Homo sapiens: one gene and its partner. The protein of the gene in region 1 binds, or shares a complex with, the protein of each later gene. Each region holds a gene or a part of one and is shown on either strand. Other genes may lie near its edges. The genes, in order: CALR3 and CELF1.

What was found.
Region 2: CALR3 (region 1) and CELF1 share a complex: the UniProt entries of both Homo sapiens proteins name them as parts of the EIF2 complex.

What each region holds. Positions count from the first base shown.
Region 1 is NC_000019.10:16,492,670-16,501,723, reverse strand, and holds the start of CALR3 (calreticulin-3 precursor), read left to right. Parts: upstream 1-5,556; 5' UTR 5,557-5,594; coding exon 5,595-5,685; intron 5,686-5,871; coding exon 5,872-5,973; intron 5,974-9,054. Other genes in the region: uncharacterized protein C19orf44, read right to left, coding at 173-931. UniProt on the Homo sapiens protein: During spermatogenesis, may act as a lectin-independent chaperone for specific client proteins such as ADAM3. Required for sperm fertility. CALR3 capacity for calcium-binding may be absent or much lower than that of CALR.
Region 2 is NC_000011.10:47,549,285-47,558,461, reverse strand, and holds the start of CELF1 (CUGBP Elav-like family member 1), read left to right. Parts: upstream 1-5,329; 5' UTR 5,330-5,470; intron 5,471-9,177. UniProt on the Homo sapiens protein: RNA-binding protein implicated in the regulation of several post-transcriptional events. Involved in pre-mRNA alternative splicing, mRNA translation and stability.

The DNA of each region.
Region 1 (9,054 bases):
GCTACTCGGGAGGCTGAGGCAGGAGAATCACTTGAATCTAGGAGTGGAGGTTGCGGTGAGCAGAGATCGTGCCATTGCACTCCAGCCTGGGCAACAAGAGCAAAACTCCATCTCAAAAAAAAAATTAAATTAAATAAATTAAAATAAATTTACCAAAAAAAAAAAATCTCACCGAAAATAGTTTTCTTTCTTCTTCCTCGCTGACGTTAGCGCTGCTGAAGCCTTGATTCGTGTTTTTTTCTCTAGAAGAGTCCATCAAGCTTCCTAGCAATACTTTCATTTCTTCTTCGTCACTGTCTGGAGAATCAAATGTTCTAGCAGGTTCTTTCTGTTTGGGGGTTTGCAAAGTCCTCTCTTTCCCAGCAGGTGCTTCAGGGGATATGTTTTCAACAGGTGCTTGTTTCTTCTTTAGAAACCTACTGACCTTCGCGTTCTGTGCATTATTTTCGGTGACAGGAAGTTCACGGGCTTGATTCTGGGAAGTTTTGTCTGTGTTCTGGGACGCGAGTTCGAGTGCACCCCCAGAGAGGATTCTGTCAGCTCTCTTTGGAAGACCAGCATCGGCGGTCATTGAGTCAGATTCCGTGTCAGACAAATTCCTCTGCAGCTTCCGATTCATGATCCGGGTTTCCAGCTGGGCCAGCTTCATGAGTGCGGCATTGGCTCGGATCCTGGAGGCAGTGGTGGGCGGTCTACATGAGGCAAGCCTGGGTCCACTCCCGAGCACAGGGTTCTCTTTCAGGAGTAAGTGTTTCTCATCTAGAGTTTGGTTTCTTTTTAGAAATCTGCTATGACCAGGTGCTATTTTGGTAAGATTTCTACTGATCTGGAAGTTTCTGATTTCTTCCATTGTTGAATCTTCCAAGGAAACATCACTGAAGTCACCAAAAACATCACGCATGGGACGGCTGGCTTTCCTTGCAGAAGCCATTCTGTGGAGGAAGAGGAGCAATTTTGCATAAGAGTACCTGCTGTTTGTATTGAGCATTCAATGGCTCCTACTTGGCAAAAGCTCACACTGTCTTTTGCAACCCAGCCACAGTCTTCCCTTCAAGCCCAAGGATGACAATGAAAATGACCAGGCTGGGTGCAGTGGCTCACACCTGTAATCCCAGCACTTTGGGAGGCCGAGGCAGGTGGATCACGATGTCAAGAGATTGAGACCATCCTGGCAAACATGGTGAAACCCCGTCTCTACTAAAAATACAAAAATTAGCTGGACGTGGTGGTGCACAACCTCTCAGGCTCAAGTGATCCTCCTGCCTCAGCCTCCTGTGTAGCTGGGACTACAGGTGCACACCACCATGCCTGCCACTGCACTCTAGCCTGGGCTACAGAGTGAAACCCTGTCTAAAAAAAAAAAAAAAGAAAAAGAAAAAAGAAAAGACAAATTACCTGAAAGAGCAATAAGGTGACGTGTGAAAATCGAGGTATCCCTGTATTTAACAAGCCCCCAGAAAATCAGATTTCACTTAGTGTAAGAACCATTACCAATGGCTGGGCTCAGTGGCTCACACCTATAATGCCAGCAGTTTAGGAGGCCAAGGCAAGCAGATCACCTGAGCCCAGGGGTTCGAGACCAGCCTGGCCAACATGGCAAAGCCCCATCTCTACTAAAAATACAAAAATTAGTCAAGCGCCAGGCGTGGTGGCTCATGCCTATAATCCCAGCACTTTGGTAGGCCGTGGTGGGTGGATCACGAGGTCATAAGTTCAAGACCAGTCTGATCAACATGGTGAAACCCCGTCTCTACTAAAAATACAAAAATTAGCCGGGCCTGGTGGCACCACCTGTAGTCCCAGCTACTTAGGAAGCTGAGGCAGGAGAATCGCTTGAACCCGGGAGGTGGAGGTTGCAGTGAGCCGAGATCACACCACTGCACTCCAGCCTGGACGACAGAGCGAGACTCTGTCTCAAAAAAAAAAGAAGAACCGCTACCCTGGGAAAGAGGGGGGCTATGGACAGGCACAGCTCCCCAGCAGGCCAGCAAATCTTTACCGTATGTGTATATTTTTCTAGGTAGAAATATCAGAGCTTTCATCATATTCTCAGAGTTCCCATATACCCCTGAAAGAGTATGAACAACCCACTGCAAGACTTACAAAGGCTTCCGAAGATTACAAAGACTTTAAAAGATGAAAAACTACAGGCCGGGTGCGGTGGCTCATGCCCGTAATCCCAGCACTTTGGGAGGCCAAGGCGGGTGGATCACGAGGTCAGGAGATCGAGACCACGGTGAAACCCCGTCTCTACTAAAAATACAAAAAAATTAGCCGGGCGTGGTGGCGGGCGCCTGTAGTCCCAGCTACTCCGGAGGCTGAGGCAGGAGAATGGCATGAACCCGGGAGGCGGAGCTTGCAGTGAGCCGAGACTGCGCCACTGCACTCCAGCCTGGGTGACAGAGTAAAACTCCGTCTCAAAAAAAAAGAAAAAAAAAAGATTCTATACAAGAATGAATTATGATTCCTATTAACAATCTGTTTCCCGAATAAACTTGTTTGCTTGTTCCTATCTTAACTACCCTGTACTAGGAGTGCCCAGCACAGGACTGACCACAGGGGTCAGAGAACAGAAAAATATGCCTGGCAGAAATAATGCAGACTTCCTGGTCTGTGTGACCCCGGGCAAGTTACTTAATCGCTCTGTGTCAGCCTGCTCATCTGTAAAAATAACAATTACTACCCTCATAGGATTCCTATATATTCTGTGTGGGACATGAAAAAGTGCTCAGTAACATTTAAATGCCAGTAACAGACTAGGCGTGGTGGCTCACGCCTGTAATCCCAGCACTTTGGGAGGCCGAGGTGGGCGGATCATGAGGTCAGGAGATAGAGACCATCCTGGCTAACACAGTGAAACCCCGTCTCTACTAAAAACACAAAAAATTAGCCGGGCGCGGTGGTGGGCGCCTGTAGTCCCAGCTACTCAGGAGGCCGAGGCAGGAGAATGGCATGAACCCAGGAGGCAGAGCTTGCAGTGAACCGAGATCGCGCCATTGCACTCCAGCCTGGGCAAAAGAGAGAGACTCCGTCTCAAAAAAAAAAAAGAAAAAAACCATGAGGAGCTACTACTTCACATCCCCTAGCATGGCTATAATCAAAAATACACGTAACAAGTGTCAGTGAGGAAGTGAACAGATTGAAGCCCACAGTGGCTCACACCTGTAATCCCAGCACTGTGGGAGGCCAGGATGGGAGGACTGTTTGAACCCATGAGTTCGAGACCAGCCTGGGCAACATAGGGAGACTCCATCTCTACAAAAAATGAAAAAATTAGCTGGGTCTGATGGCACACACCTGTAGTCCCAGTTACTCGGGAGGCTGAGGTGGGAGGATTGCTTGAGCCCAGGAGTTTGAGGCTGCAGTGAGCTATGATCGTGCCACTGGACTCCAGCCCGGATGATAGGGCAAGACCCTATCTCTAAAAAAAATAAAGAAATTGGAACCCTCATATGTTGTTGGGGGAATTGTAAAATTATGTAGTCCTCAATGTGGAAAACAGTTGGTTCCTCAAAAGGTTAGACATAGAGTTACCATGTGATCCAGGGATTCCACTCCCATGTGGCCCAAGAGAAATGCAAATGTATGCAAATGTTCGTAATAGTTTTGTTTTGTTTTGAGACAGGCTCTCACTCTGTTGCCCAGGCTGAGTGCAGTGGTGTTATCATGGCTCACTACAGCCTCGACCTCCCGGGGTCACGCGATCCTCCCACCTCAGCTTCCTGGGTAGCTGGGACTACAGACACACATTGCCATGCCTAGCTAACTTTTTGTAGAAACAAGGTCTCACTGTGTTGCCCAGGCTGTTCTCAGATTCCTGGGGTTCTAGAGATCCGCAGCCTCAGCCTCCCAAAATGCTGAGATTACAATCCCACATCATCATACCTGGCCCCATAATATTTATTACTCCTAGTAGACTAAAACGGAAAACAATGTAACTATCCATTAATTAGTGAATGGATTACAAACTATGGTCCATCCATACAGTGTAATACAGTTCAGCAATTTAAAAAACAAATACTAATATAACAGCACGCAGGAATCTCAAATACATCACGCTAAGGGAAAGTAGCCAAGCCGGGCGCAGTGGCTCACGCCTGTAATCCCAGCACTTTGGGAGGCTAAGGCGGGCGGATCACGAGGTCAGGAGATCGAGACCAGCCTGACACACATGGTAAAACCCCGTCTCTACTAACAATACAAAAATTAGCGGGGCGTGGTGTCATGCGCCTGTAATCCCAAATACTCAGGACGCTGAGACAGGAGAATTGCTTGAACCTGGGAGGCGGAGTTCGCAGTGAGCCGAGATCGCACCATTGCACTTCAGCCTAAGTAACAGAGCGAGAATCTGTCTCAAAAAAAAAAAAAAAAGGAAAGAAAAAAGAAAGTAGCCAGACACTAAACTCCACACACCCTATCATTTCATTTGTAAGAACTGTCAAGAAAAGGCAAACCAATAAACTCAGAAAGCAGATCGGGCCGGTGCTGTGACTCACGCCTATAATCCCAGCACTTTGGGAGGCCAAGGCTGGCAGATTACGTGAGGTCAGGAGTTCGAGACCAGCGTGGCAAACATGGTGAAACCCCATCTCTACTAAAAATACAAAAAATTAGCCGGAGTGCAGTGGCATGATCACAGCTCACAGCAGCCCTTGACCTCCTGGACACAAGCAATCCTCCCTCCTGCCTCAACATCCTGAGTAGCTGGGACTACAGGCGCGTGCCACTACACCTGGCTAATTTTTTATTTTTATCTTTTTTAGAGATGGGGTCTCGCCAGGTTGCCCAGGCTGGTCTGGATCTCCTGGCCTCAAGTGATCCTCCCGCCTCTGCCTCCCAAAGTGCTGGGATTCCAGGCGTGAATCACCGCGCCCGGCCTGACGCAAAGTTCTAAAGCTGGATGAGCTGGATGGTGGCGACGGCTTCACAACTTTGTAGATTTACTAAAAATAACGGAGTCGTCAGCTTAAAAGTGGCGAACACTATGGTATGTAAATGAAGGCTCAATAAAGTTGTTACAAATCAACAAACCAAAACTTGAAAACCCTGGCGCCCCTGAGACCATCCTGCTCTTCTCCCCAGCTATGAAGCGACCCGCGCAGGACCATGCTCCAATAGACCCCAGACAGGGAAACTGAGGCGCGGGACCATCCTGCAGCGGCCCAACCAGCTCAGCCCCGGAGAAGGCCCCATTTCCCCGTATCCCCCTCGCGAGCCCGGACGCCCAGCTAGGTCACCTCCCCACCAGCCCTGCCGACCTCTTCCCACGCCGTCCATTCGCAGAGGCAGCCGCCACATTCACGCCTGAAGGAGCGGTTGCCCTGGGCAACAGAGCCAGAGCAGAAGAGACTACATCTCCCGGGAAGCACCGCGCCCCGCAGACCAATGGCGCCCCGAATCACAATCGCGGGGTGTCATGGGAGCGGTAGTTCCGGGGCGGGCCCAACGTGCCCCGCGCCGCAGCGACCAATGGGACCCTCAGGTCATAATCGCGAGTTGTGACGGGAGTTGTAGTTTCGGGACGCGCCTGAAGAGCCGCAGAGAGAGCTGGGAGCTAAGGGGTGGCGGCGACCGGAAGCGCAGTGCACACCCCCATGGCCCGGGCTTTGGTCCAGCTCTGGGCCATATGCATGCTGCGAGTGGCGCTGGCTACCGTCTATTTCCAAGAGGAATTTCTAGACGGAGGTGAAGGGGCCACGCCCGTGGTGGCGGAGGTGTAAGCTCCCCCATCTCCGCCCCCTAAGGCTGGCCAGAGTCGCCACGGGGTCCACGGCAGCGAACCCTCGAATCCTCGAGGGTCCCCTTCACCCTTCCCTTAGCCCAAATTAACCATTATCACCTCTAACCGGTGTTATTTCCCCTTCCCCACAGAGCATTGGAGAAACCGATGGTTGCAGTCCACCAATGACTCCCGATTTGGGCATTTTAGACTTTCGTCGGGCAAGTTTTATGGTCATAAAGAGAAAGATAAAGGTTAGTGTAGAATCAGGACCAAATTGAGCCTAATGTTACATTTCCATAGCAACCTCTCTAGGTAGTTGTGGCACAGCCAAAACGCTTTTATTCCCGTTTTACAGATGAAGACATTAAGGCAAAGGTAGAACTTAAGGGGCTCCTTTCCTTGTTTTTTTGTTTCTTCTCTCCTTTTTTTTTTTTTTTTTTTTTGAGACGGAGCCTTGCTCTGTTGCCCAGGCTGGAGTGCAGTGGCGCGATTTCGGCTCACTGCAACTTCCACCTCCCGGGTTCAAGCAATTCTCCTGCCTCAGCCTCCCGAGTAGCTGAGACTACAGGCGCGCGCCACCATGACCGGCTAATTTTTGTACTTTTAGTAGAGACAGGGTCCACGTTGGCCAGGCTGGTCTCGAACTCCTGACCTCATGATCCACCCACCTTGGCCTCCCAAAGTGCTGGGATTACAGGCATGAGCCACAACATCCAGCCTCCTCTCTCCTTTCTTTATTGCCAAAGATTCCTTTTTTTTTTTTTTTTTTTTTTTGGTAGTAGGAGTCTCGCTCTGTCGCCTAGGCTAGAGTGCAGTGGCACGATCTTGGCTCACTCAAACCTCCGTCTCCCGGGTTCAAGTGATTCTCTTGCTTCAGGCTTCTGAGGAGCTGCGATTACAAGCGTGCGCCACCATGCCCTGCTAATTTTTTTAGAGACAGAGTTTCACCACATTGCCCAGGCTGGACTCAAACTCCTGGCCTTAAGTAATCCACCTGCCTCGGCCTCCTAAAGTGCTGGGATTATAGGCGTGAGCCATGGTGCTTGGCCTATTATCATTATTATTACTTTTATTGGTATTAGGTCCCCTGAAGTCCAAGGAGACATATTCAGCTTATTTGGTATAATAAAATCATACTTGAAGCACTGTCAAATATGCAATGGTATTTAACCTTCTTTGGATTATATTTATATGAATGTGTTATTAGTAGGCATTACCAAAATTGCCCCTCTTAATAGACACTAGTCAAGTGCATTTGAGGATCAAGGGCCATGCCCCTCAGAAGGAAAAGGTTAGTGGGTACTTTTTCTCATTTTAATTTTCGTATTAAAAAGAAAAATAGGCCAGGCGCGGTGGCTCATGCCTGTAATCCCAGCACTTTGGGAGGCCTTAGGCGAGCGGATCATGAGGTCAGGAGTTCAAAACCAGTCTGGCCAATACGGTGACACCCTGTCTCTACTAAAAATACAAAAATTAGCTGGGTGTGGTGGCTCATGCCTGTAGTCCCAGCTACTCGGGAGGCTGAGGCAGAAGAATCACTTGAACCCGGGAGGCAGAGGTTGCAGTGAGCAGAGATCATGCCCCTGCACTCCAGCCTCAGTGACAGAGTGAGACTCCATCTCAAAAAAAAAGAAAAATATGGTCAGGCACGGTGGCTCACGCCTGTAATCCCAGCATGTTGGGAGGCCAAGGCAGGCGGATTACTTGAAGTCAGGAGTTTGAGACCAGCCTGGTCACCATGGTGAAACCCTGTCTCCACAAAAATACAAAAAAGTTAGCCAAGTGTGGTGGCGCACAACTATAATCCCAGCTAATTGGGAGGCTGAGGCAGAAGAATCGTTTGTACCCAGGAGGCAGAGGTTGCAGTGAACTGAGATTGTACCACTGCACTCCAGCCTGGGTGACAGAATGAGACTCCATTTCAAAAAATAAAAGAAAAAAATACAGAGATAAACATTACATCTTGTCGCCTGCACATTCTTCAGGGTACAACACAATGAGCTTTTACTTTTGTACAGGCAGGTCAAGATAAGGCAAGCGAATCACTTGAGGTTGAGACCAGCCCGGCCAACATGGCGAAACTCCGTCTCTATTAAAAATACAAAAATTAGCTGGGCATGGTGGCACACATCTATAATCTCACCTACTTCAGAGGCTGAGGCAGGAGAATCACTTGAACCCAGGAGGCGGAGGTTGCAGGGAGCCAAGATCATGCCACTGCACTCCAGCCTGGATAACCGAGCAAGACTCTGTCTCAAGAAAAAAAATATATATATATACAAATATTAGCCGAGCATGGTGGCATAGGCCTGTAGTCCCAGCTACTTGAGAGATTGAGGCAGGAGAATCACATGAACCCGAGAGGCGGAGGTTGCAGTGAGTCGAGATCGTGCCACTACACTCCAGCCTGGGCAACAGAGCAAGACTCTGTCTCAAAAAAAAAAAAAAAAAAAAAAAAATTCTAGCTTCAAGAGAGCTAATTCAAGCTCAAAGTTTAAGGACAACTGTGTGGAAAACACAGATCCCAAAGAATAGAAGTCAGTGTTCTGAAGTGTAGAAGTTTGGGATCATTTGTATAGACAAAGTTTAGAGAAGCTTAACAGAATTTCAGCATCTTTCTAGGCAAGGCTTGATAGATAATGACCATGATCCCATTAGTCAAGGTGGTCTTTTTCTTTTGAGAAGGTATATTTAACATTTCACCCTGAAGATGTAACAGTCACGGCATCTTTTGTGCCATCTGGTCTGAGTTAGGTACAGGTCAGTCCTGGAGGCAGTTAATCTGTAACTAAGGTCAGTGGTCACAAATAGAGGAGGCCTGGTCTCTGGTTTGTCCTAGTCATTTGCCAAACAAGAACAATGAGGAAGAAGGTTTATCTATGATTTAAGAAGCAGAGGTTACACCTGCATGCTGCATGACTCAGATCACACAACTTGCTCAAGGTTTTTATTTATTTTATGTATTTATTTGAGAGAGAGTTTCACCCTTGTTACCCAGGCTGGAGTGCAATGGCGTGATCTCTGCTCACCACAACCTCCGCCTCCCAGGTTCAAATGATTCTCCTGCTTCCAGCCTCCCAAGTAGCTAAGATTACAGGCATGTGCCACCACACCTGGCTAATTTTTTTTTTTTTTTTTTTGAGACGGAGTCTCGCTCTGTAGCCCAGGATGGAGTGCAGTGGCGCGATCTCGGCTCACTGCAAGCTCTGCCTCCTGGGTTCACGCCATTCTTCTGCCGAGTAGCCGGAACTACAGGCGCCTGCCACCACGCCCGGCTAATTTTTTGTATTTTTTTTTTTTTAGTAGAGACAGGGTTTCACGTGTTAGCCAGG
Region 2 (9,177 bases), on another chromosome or scaffold:
TAATATATTATATATATATATAATATATATATGAGGGTTTCATCTAATGCTTTTATCCATTGATGGCTATTGACTAGATCCATTATTTTACCAAAATGCAGATTTTCTGATTATATATATAAAACACTCATAGGAAATTTGACCATAGAGGGATCAGGCTCGGGCCACCTCAACCACTGATGAGTCTGTGTCAGTAAAAGCAGGACAGACAACTTGACATCATAGGCTATAGGCCTCCAGATGTGATGCAGTGTGACGCTCGCAGCACCGCCTGAATGTAACCAGGCCTTAAGAGTTTTCTTTCCGGCCATGCGCGGTGGCTCACGCCTATAATCCCAACACTTTCGGAGGCTGAGGCGGGCAGATCACCTGAGGTTAGGAGTTCAAGACCAGTCTGGCCAACATGGTGAAACCCTGTCTCTACTAAAAATACAAAAAATTAGTTGGGCATGCTGGCAGGTACAGGTAATTCCAGTTACTCGGGAGGATGAGGCAGGAGAATCTCTTGAACCCAGGAGGCGGAGGTTGTAGTGAGCCGATATTGCATCATTGCACTCCAGCCTGGGCAACAAGAGCAAAACTCCATCTCAAAAAAAAAGAGTTTTCTTTTTTTCTTTTAGAGACAAGGGCAGGGCGAGGTGGCATGTGCCTGTAAGTCCCAACTACTCTGGAGGCTGAGGCAGGGGGATCACTTGAGTCCAGAAGTTCTGGGCTATAGTGCAGTATGTCAATCAGGTGTCTGCACTAAGTTCTGCATCAACATCGTGACCTCCAGAGAGTGGGGGACCACCAGGTTGCCTAAGGAGTGGTGAACCGGCTCAGGCTGGAAAAGAAACAGGTCAAAACTCCCATGCTGATCTGTAGTGGAATCATGCCTGTGAAAAGTCACTGCACTCCAGCCTGGGCAACGGAGCGAGACTCCGTCTCAAAAAAAAAAGAAAAATAGGCCGGGCGTGATGGCTCACCCCTGTAATTGAAGCACTTTGGGAGGCCAAGGCGGGTGGATCATGAGGTCAGGAGATCGAGAGTACCCTGGCTAACACGGTGAAACCCGTCTCTACTAAAAATACAAAAAATTAGCCGGATGTGGTGGCATGTGCCTGTAGTCCCAGCTACCCGGGAGGCTGAGGCAGGAGAATCGCTTGAACCCGGGAGGGGGAGGTTGCAGTGAGCTGAGATTGTGCCACTGGACTCCAGCCTGGGCCACAGAGCCAGACTCTGCCTCAAAAAAAAAACAAAACAAAACAAACAAAACCAAGAAAGAAAAGTAAATAGGCCGGGCGTGGTGGCTCCCGGCACTTTGCGAGGCTGAGGCGGGCGGATCACTTGAGGTAAGGAGTTCAAGGCCAACCTGACCAACATGGGGAAACCCCGACTCTACTAAAAATACAAAAATTAGCTGGGCGTGGTGGTGTGCACCTGTAATCCCAGCTACTCAGGAGGCTGAGGCAGCAGAATCGCTTGAATCTGAGAGGCAGACATTGCAGTGAGCCAAGATGGTGCCACTGTACTCCAGCATGGGCAACAGAGCAAGACTCCGTCTCAAAATAAATAATAAATAAATAAATAAATAACCAAATAGAGACAGGGTCTTACTCTGATGCCTAGGCTGGAGTGCAGTGTCGTGATCATAGCTCACTGCAACCTGGAACTCCTGGGCTGAAGGGATCCTCCTACCTCAGCTTCTTAAGTAGTTGGAACTGCAGATGTACATGCCACCATGCCAGGCTAACATTTTTAAATTTTTTATTTATATGGAGATGGTGTCTTGTTATGTTGCCTGGGCTGGTTTTGAATTCCTGGCCTCAAACAGTCCTCCTGCCTTGGCCTCCAGGGTAGCTGGGATTATGGGAGTATGCCATCATGCCTGGCTATCATCATTTCCTCTATATTTATCTATTATTATATGGCTATGAATGAACCATAATTTATCAATCTCATTTTGTATCAAATTTTATGCTGTTTAAACAATGTTATGGTCAGGTGTCATGGCTCGCACCTGTAATCCCAAAACTTCGGAAGGCCGAGTGGGGAGGGTTGCTTGAGCTCAGGAGTTTGAGATCAGCCTGGGCAACATAGTGAGACCCCTGTCTCTACAAAAGAAAAAAAATTAGTTGGACATGGTGGCACACACCTGTGATCTCAGCTACTCACAAGGTTCTGGTGGAAGGATCTCATGAACCCAGGAGTTCAAGGTTGCTGTGAACTATGATAGCACTACTACACTCCAGGCTGGGTGACAGAGCAAGACCCTGTGTCTAGAAAAGTAAAATTAAAAAAATAAAAAATGTTACAATCTCTGCCATTATCCATGAATATTCCCTTAGGATAAATTCCTAGAAAGGTATGTAAAAGTTTAGATTCCTCTAGGCAGATTATCTGAACTTTACTCCCATCACCACTTGGAGAAGGCTATTTCTCTGCACTCTTACTAACACTGGCTTTTTTTTTTTTTTTTTTTTGAGACAGAGTCTTGCTGTGTCGCCCAGGCTGGAGTGCAGTGGTTCGATCTCGACTCACTGCAACCACCGTCTCCCAAGTTCAAGCTATTCTGCCATCTCAGCCTCCCGAGTAGCTGGGATTACAGGCACCCGCCATCATGCCTGGCTAACGTTTGTATTTTTTAGTAGAAACAGGGTTTCACCAGGTTGGTCTTGAACTCCTGACCTCAGGTGATCCATCTGCCTCGGCCTCCCAAAGTGCTAGGATTACAGGCATGAGCTACCGCGCCTGGCCGACATTGGCTATTTTTTAAAAAAAATAAATCTTAATCTATTTGTAAGGCAAAACATGAAACAGGAAGCTTTACATACTCTTAAATCTCACACTAGGCTTTTTTTGTATTTGGACTGTTTAGCATTTTGTCTATGTTGCTGAAACCCTTTGAAGTTACAAGATCTATTTGTGTTCTTCATGTAATTGTTCTTCCCCCCAACCTTGGGCTAACAGTCTGTGGCCTTCCTTGGTAACTAAATGCAAGAGTGATATTAATACCTTACAAGTTCCTCCCTTGCAAATGGGAGCCCTAAGTCAAGGCACAGATAGAATAGGAAAAAGCTTCTGGTTGCTCTTCAAGAAGTTTATCGAGTTAGATACAGTGAAAAGCAATGGAGATATTAGGAGAATAACAAGATGGGCATGGAAGAGTTTCTGTTTGCTCTTCAAGAAATATCTATTGAGTCAGATATTGTGAAAAGCACTGGAGATATAATAAGACGGGCATGGTGCCTTTCCTTATTTAGCTCATGGGCAGGTTCCAAGAAGCTTCTAAAGGCGCAACATTTTGTTTTCCATATCTGGCACCTAGATATACCTATTCAGTAAGTCAACAATATTTATTGAGCATGTACTATGGATTAGGCATTATCAAGGCCCTGAGGATAGAGCAGTGAAATAAAACAGACAAAACCTCTATCCTCATGAAGTTTACCTTTGGTTTACCTTCTGGGCTACTGTCAATAAAACAAGTAAAATATATAAATACAAAATATACTGTGAGGCCGGGTGCAGTGGCTCACGCCTGTAATCCCAGCACTTTGAGAGGCAGAGGCGGGCAGAACACTTGCAGTCAGGAGTTTGAGACCAGCCTGACCAACAGGGGTTGAAACCCCGTCTCCACTAAAAATACAAAAATTAGTCAGGCATCGTGGCACGCGCCTGTAATCCCAGCTACTCGGGAGGCTGAGGCAGGAGAATTGCTTGAACCTGGGAGGTGGAGGTTGCAGTGAGCCGAGATCGCGCCACTGCACTCCAGCCTGGGTGACAAGAGCTAGACTCCGTCTCAAAAAAAAAAAAAAACTGTGTTAGATAATGATAAATGTTTTGGATAAAAATGAAAGTGGGATTGAAAGCATGGGTGTGTGTGTGTGTGCACATGCCATGCATGCAAGCAGTGTAAAATAGAGTGCTTAGGGAAGACTGGACTGAGAAGGTGACACTTAAGTCAAAGTCTGAAGGAGGTGAGGAAGTGAGCCATGTGGATATCCACATGATTCTATGGAGCACAAAAGGAGACAGACTCTCTGCTTGAAACATTTCTACAACCTATAGCAGCAAATATATGGTAATATTTGTGACAACATTCTGTAAGCTATAATGGTCTATAAATATAGGATGTTTTCAGTCAACTACACATAAAACTATTAACAAGAACAAGATCATATATCAGCATTATGAATGTATATAAAACTACCCAGTACAATTAGGGAATATGATCATGTACAATTTAAGGACTATATGGTACCAGAAAAACTCTGGTTAGTTTTTTTCCCCCCCAAAGGCGAAAGAGGAAAACCCTTGAGGCTTCTGCTTGGAAGCCCACTTGTTGTTTGTGGTAAGGTAGGATATAATCAGTATTTGTGGGTATAAAAATTATATTCTCTGGGAAGCCAGATGATGTTAGAGAGAAACCATCCCATGAGTTATTTGCATGTTGATGGGGCCAAAAGCTTCCAGAACAAAGTTTTCTTTCTTAATCTGCATTTAACTGCCTCACAAGGTCTGGAACCTAGGAATAAATGTTGGCTTAAACAACAACAACAACAACAACAAATTGTACTGCTTGCGTTCCATCTAGACCCAGGGATTCCAGAGTAACTCAGGAGGAAGTCTTTAGAGACCTAACCTGAGTTAAGAAAAAAAAATATATATATATATTTTTTTTTCGGTAAAAGCAGGTTATGGCTGGGCAATCGGTCTCTTAATAGAATCTTTGTGAACTTCCTTATGTCGCAGCGATCGTTGCCAGGTTGTGCGTTCACACTGATTATCTTGCTAAAAAGCACTCCCTGCACTTGGAACACACATATTCACATCCCAGCAAAGAAGGAAGGCCTGGATGCTGTTGCTTGTCTGCTGGGGCAAAAAGGGGCGTGCCATGTGCCCAACGCTGGCCAAGCACCAGTCACTCACTCATCCATTTATTCAACAAATATCTTATTATGCTCCTATTCAGTGCCCAGTAGGGGTGCCTCCTTGCCCACCAGGGTCATCTAGAGCTCCTGTGGGTGCGATGGGCGGAGTCGAGAACTTCAGATTCCCAGGCCTGGCTCTTCCCTCCAGTAGGGATCGGAGACAAAGAGATGCGCCCCTGCAGCTCCCTAGGTTGAGGGCTCCGCCCGCGGCCCCAGGGGCTTAGGTGCGGCTGCTCCTCCACTTCCCAGCCCGAGGGGGCGCTGCAGCGCCCGGCGCTCGGCCCGCCCCTACGCCGCGCTCCGCTCGCATCGGCGCTGCGGGCGGCGCCGCGGTGATACGTTCCCCCTCGCCGCGCTCCCCCTCCTCCTCTGCCCTCCCCGCCGGTGGTAGGTGCCGGAAGTGCCGCCATTTTGGGGTGTTCTGCTCTGGCGGCAGCGGCAGCGGCGGCGGGACGCGGAGGCTCCCCCGGGATTCGGCCTCAGCAGCGAGGCGGCGGCGGCGGCTGCGGAGGCGCAGGCAGCAACTGAGGCAGCGGCAGGCTCAGGTGCAGCCGCTGGTGAGTGCTGCGGCCGCAGGATAACGGGCCGCGGGAGGGAGGGAGGGGAAAAAAGGCAAGAGGGAGGCGCCGCGGGGCGGGTCCGGTTAGGGAGGCCGCGGGTCACAGGGCCCTCCGGGCGCGGCCTTTTCTCGTTCCCTGCGTCCTGGGGTAGGGCTGCGATCTCCTCCTGCATGTCGGGGTCCCCGGCTCCCCGGGTCCTGTCGCGTTTGCCCAGCGCGTGCCCCCGCGCCCAGGGAGACCCGCCCTCCTCGTGGCTTTGCTTCCTCTCCCCGCGCCCTTTACCTTCACTCTCTAGGCTCAGAGGCCTCGTGCCCTGCCCAGGGCCAGCTCCGTTTTCCTCGTCTTTCTGGCTGCCGTGCTGGACCCAGGCTACCTGCCCGGGACACCCCATCTCTGCCCCTGTCGTCTCACGTGTTCTTAGTGTCCACTCCTGTGGGTGCCGAAGGGTCCGCGCCCCTAGAAGGCAGCGCTTTTCCCGAGCCTCGAGAGCCCCTCGTTCCTCGCCCCAGATCCGCTACGGCCTTGGCTCGCCCTCCCCCCACATCAGGTGCTCACCCAGTCGTGGCCTAGTAGCTGGGCAGGAATCTCGCACCCGGGAGCGGGAGGAGCACATTAAAGCGCTTTCTTCGCTAGGGACCAGGCTTTGATTTTAAAGCCAGTGGTGTCGTGGTTGTGGTCCTCCGGGTAGGATGTTGTTGTAATTCTTGGAGACCATTACACATGCACCAAGGAGCTTCTCATTGGTTTAGGCTCATACCCATAGTTGAGGGGAATGTGGTAAGATTTTGACTGGAATCTGTTTCCGCAAAATGGAATCTCTTTCTCGCCAGGAGAGAGCTGTAGGTTTATTACCTTCGAGTAAAAAGGCTGTATAACAGTTTTAAAGAGCATGAAATGCTTTATAATGTGTGCAGTGTAAGAGGTTACAAATAATGAATCTTTTACAAGAACTTCATCTTTTTTTTTTTTTTTTTTAAGACGGAGTTTCGCTCTTGTTGCTTAGGCTGGAGTGCAGTGGCGCTATCTCGGCTCACTGCAACCTCCCCAGGTTCAAGCAATTCTCCTGCCTCAGCCTCCCAAGTAGCTGGGATTACAGGCATGTGCCACCAGGCCTGGCTAATTTTCGTATTTTTAGTATAGACGGGGTTTCACCATGTTGATCAGGCTGGATGGTCTCGAACTCCTGACCTCGGGTGATCCACCCGCCTCGACCTCCCAGAGTGCTGGGGATTACAGGCGTGAGCCACCGCCCCCGCCCGGAACTTCACCTTTTAAAGTTCTTTTCACTGTCTTTGATTACCCATGAATTGGGAAGGCTTTAATTGGATGCTTTCCCCTTGCCCACAAGTGTAGCTTCTCTCCAAGCGCTTTGGAAGTTTCAGCCTCTCTATTAATCCTTGGTGAGAATGAAGGCGTCTCAATATAGAATCACCCTTTCTGTTTTAGCATTAAAGAGTCCACTTAGAAAATCATGGAATTACAATAGCATGCACAAACTGTTGCTACAGTGATTTTCTTCTCATGTTAATTTTTATATTCTTCAGGCTTTACTTACCTAGTATGTGGTTTCTGATCATGAGTTAGCCAAGATTGAAGCAGCACTGTTGGTAAAGCAAAGCTGGAGCTTTCAGTTGTTGCTTTAACCAGGAAGGTTATGGTTCCCCTAGTGGTTCTTTCCTCATGACAGTCCACCACCTGTTTCCATTAAGAATGGCCTTTGGCCCAGATCACAGGCCTCAACTTCTATTCAACCATTCATTCTGACCCCTTTAAAGAAAACCCAGGGTTTTCTTTAGAGATTGTGCTATCTAGACTTAAGATCTGGTAGCAAGAGGGGCTGTTAGAGATGGAATATCTTTTCTAGAACCCCTTCACTTTTTGGATGAGGAAACTGAGGGCCCTAGAAATTAAGTGACTTACTTGCCCAAGGTTATGTTTTTTTTTTTTTTAAACAATATCACGAGTAATAATGCAATCTTCCCTTTGAGGTGTAATGAAATGGGAAAGGACCCTGAATTGAAGTTAGAACTAGGCCTGGATTGTAATGCTTGCTCTGTCATTTACTGGTTACACAACCTTGGCAAGTCACTCAACTGTTCTGCTCCTCAGTTTATTCGCACCTGCAAAATGAAAGAAACAGCATCTGTCTCACATGGTATTAGTTCAGCTTCAGTAACATGGTGAAATACCCATGATGTAATAGGCAGACAGTGAAGTTTTTAGCCAAAATGATTTTTTTCTAAAGACTTCCGTGTATTTTTCTTAATACAGAAGTTACAGATTCACTATAAAAAAAAAACAGGTAAGTCAAAAAATGAAGAAACTCACCCATAGTGCCACCACTCAGAGATGATTGTTAAATATTGGGTCTTTATCTTGCCCATCCTTTTCATATGCTATAGAAATGCCTATCTTCCCAAAATAGGCTTATCTTAGTCACAGTTTTGTGATGTGGGTCCGGTCCCCCCCAACCCCGCCATGGAGTCTTGCTCTGTCAACCATACTGGAGTGCTCACTGCACACCCTGTCCCCCGGGCTCAAGCAGTTCTCCTGCCTCAGCCTCCCGAGTAGCTGTGATTACAGGCGCCCACCACTGCGCCCAGAGGGTTTTTGTATTTTTAGTAGAGATGGGGTTTCACCATGTTGGCCAGGCCGATCTAGAACTCCTGACCTCAGGTGATCTGCCCACCTCAGCCTCCCAAAGTACTAGGATTATAGGTGTAAGCCACCGTACCCGGTGTTTTTTTTTGTTTGTTTGTTTTTGTAGAGACAGGGTGTCACTGTTTTGCCCAGGCTGGTTTTGAACTTCGGATTACAGATGTGAGCCACTGAGCCTGGCCTACATTTTAAAATTGTGGTTAAAAACACAAAATTGGCTGGGCGCAGTGGCTCACACCTGTAATCCCAGCACTTTGGGAGGCTGAGGTGGGCGGATCACGAGGTCAGGAGTTCGAGACCAGCCTGGCCAATATGGTCAAACCCCATCTCCACTAAAAATACAGAAATTAACCAGGTGTGGTGGCATGTGCCTGTAGTCCCAGCTACTTGGGAGGCTGAGGCAGGAGAATCCCTTGAGCCCAGGAGGTGGAGGTTGCAGTGAGCTGAGATTGCACCACTGCACTCCAGCCTGGGCAACAAGGCAAGACTCTGTCTCAGAAAAAAAAAAAACAAAAAAAACCCACAACATTTACTAACTTAGCCATTTTTAAGTGTTCTGTGACATTAAGTACATTCGCACTGTTGGAAAACAGATCTGTGAGTTTTTCATCTTGCGTATCTGAAACTCTATGCCTGTTGGACAACAGCTCCCCTTTTCCCCCTCCTACTAGCCCCTGGTAACCACCATTATTTCTGTTTCTACCAATTTGACTACTTTAGATAACATCATGTAAGTGGAATCATACCATGTCTGTTTTTTGTGACAGACTTATTTCACTTAGTGTAATGTCCTCAAGACTCATCCATGTTGTACTGTGTGACCGGATTTATTTCCTTTTTAAGGCTAATACTCCATTGTGTATATATATATATCATATTGTTTATGGACTGCATCCACTAATGGACTTTTGGGTTGCAGCTACCTCTTGGCTATTGTGAATAGTGCTAATGTGACTAGGTGTGCAAATAGGTATTCCAGCCTCTGGAACAATATCAGTTGTTTTGGATATATACCCCAAAGTGGGATTGCTGGATCAAGTGATAAT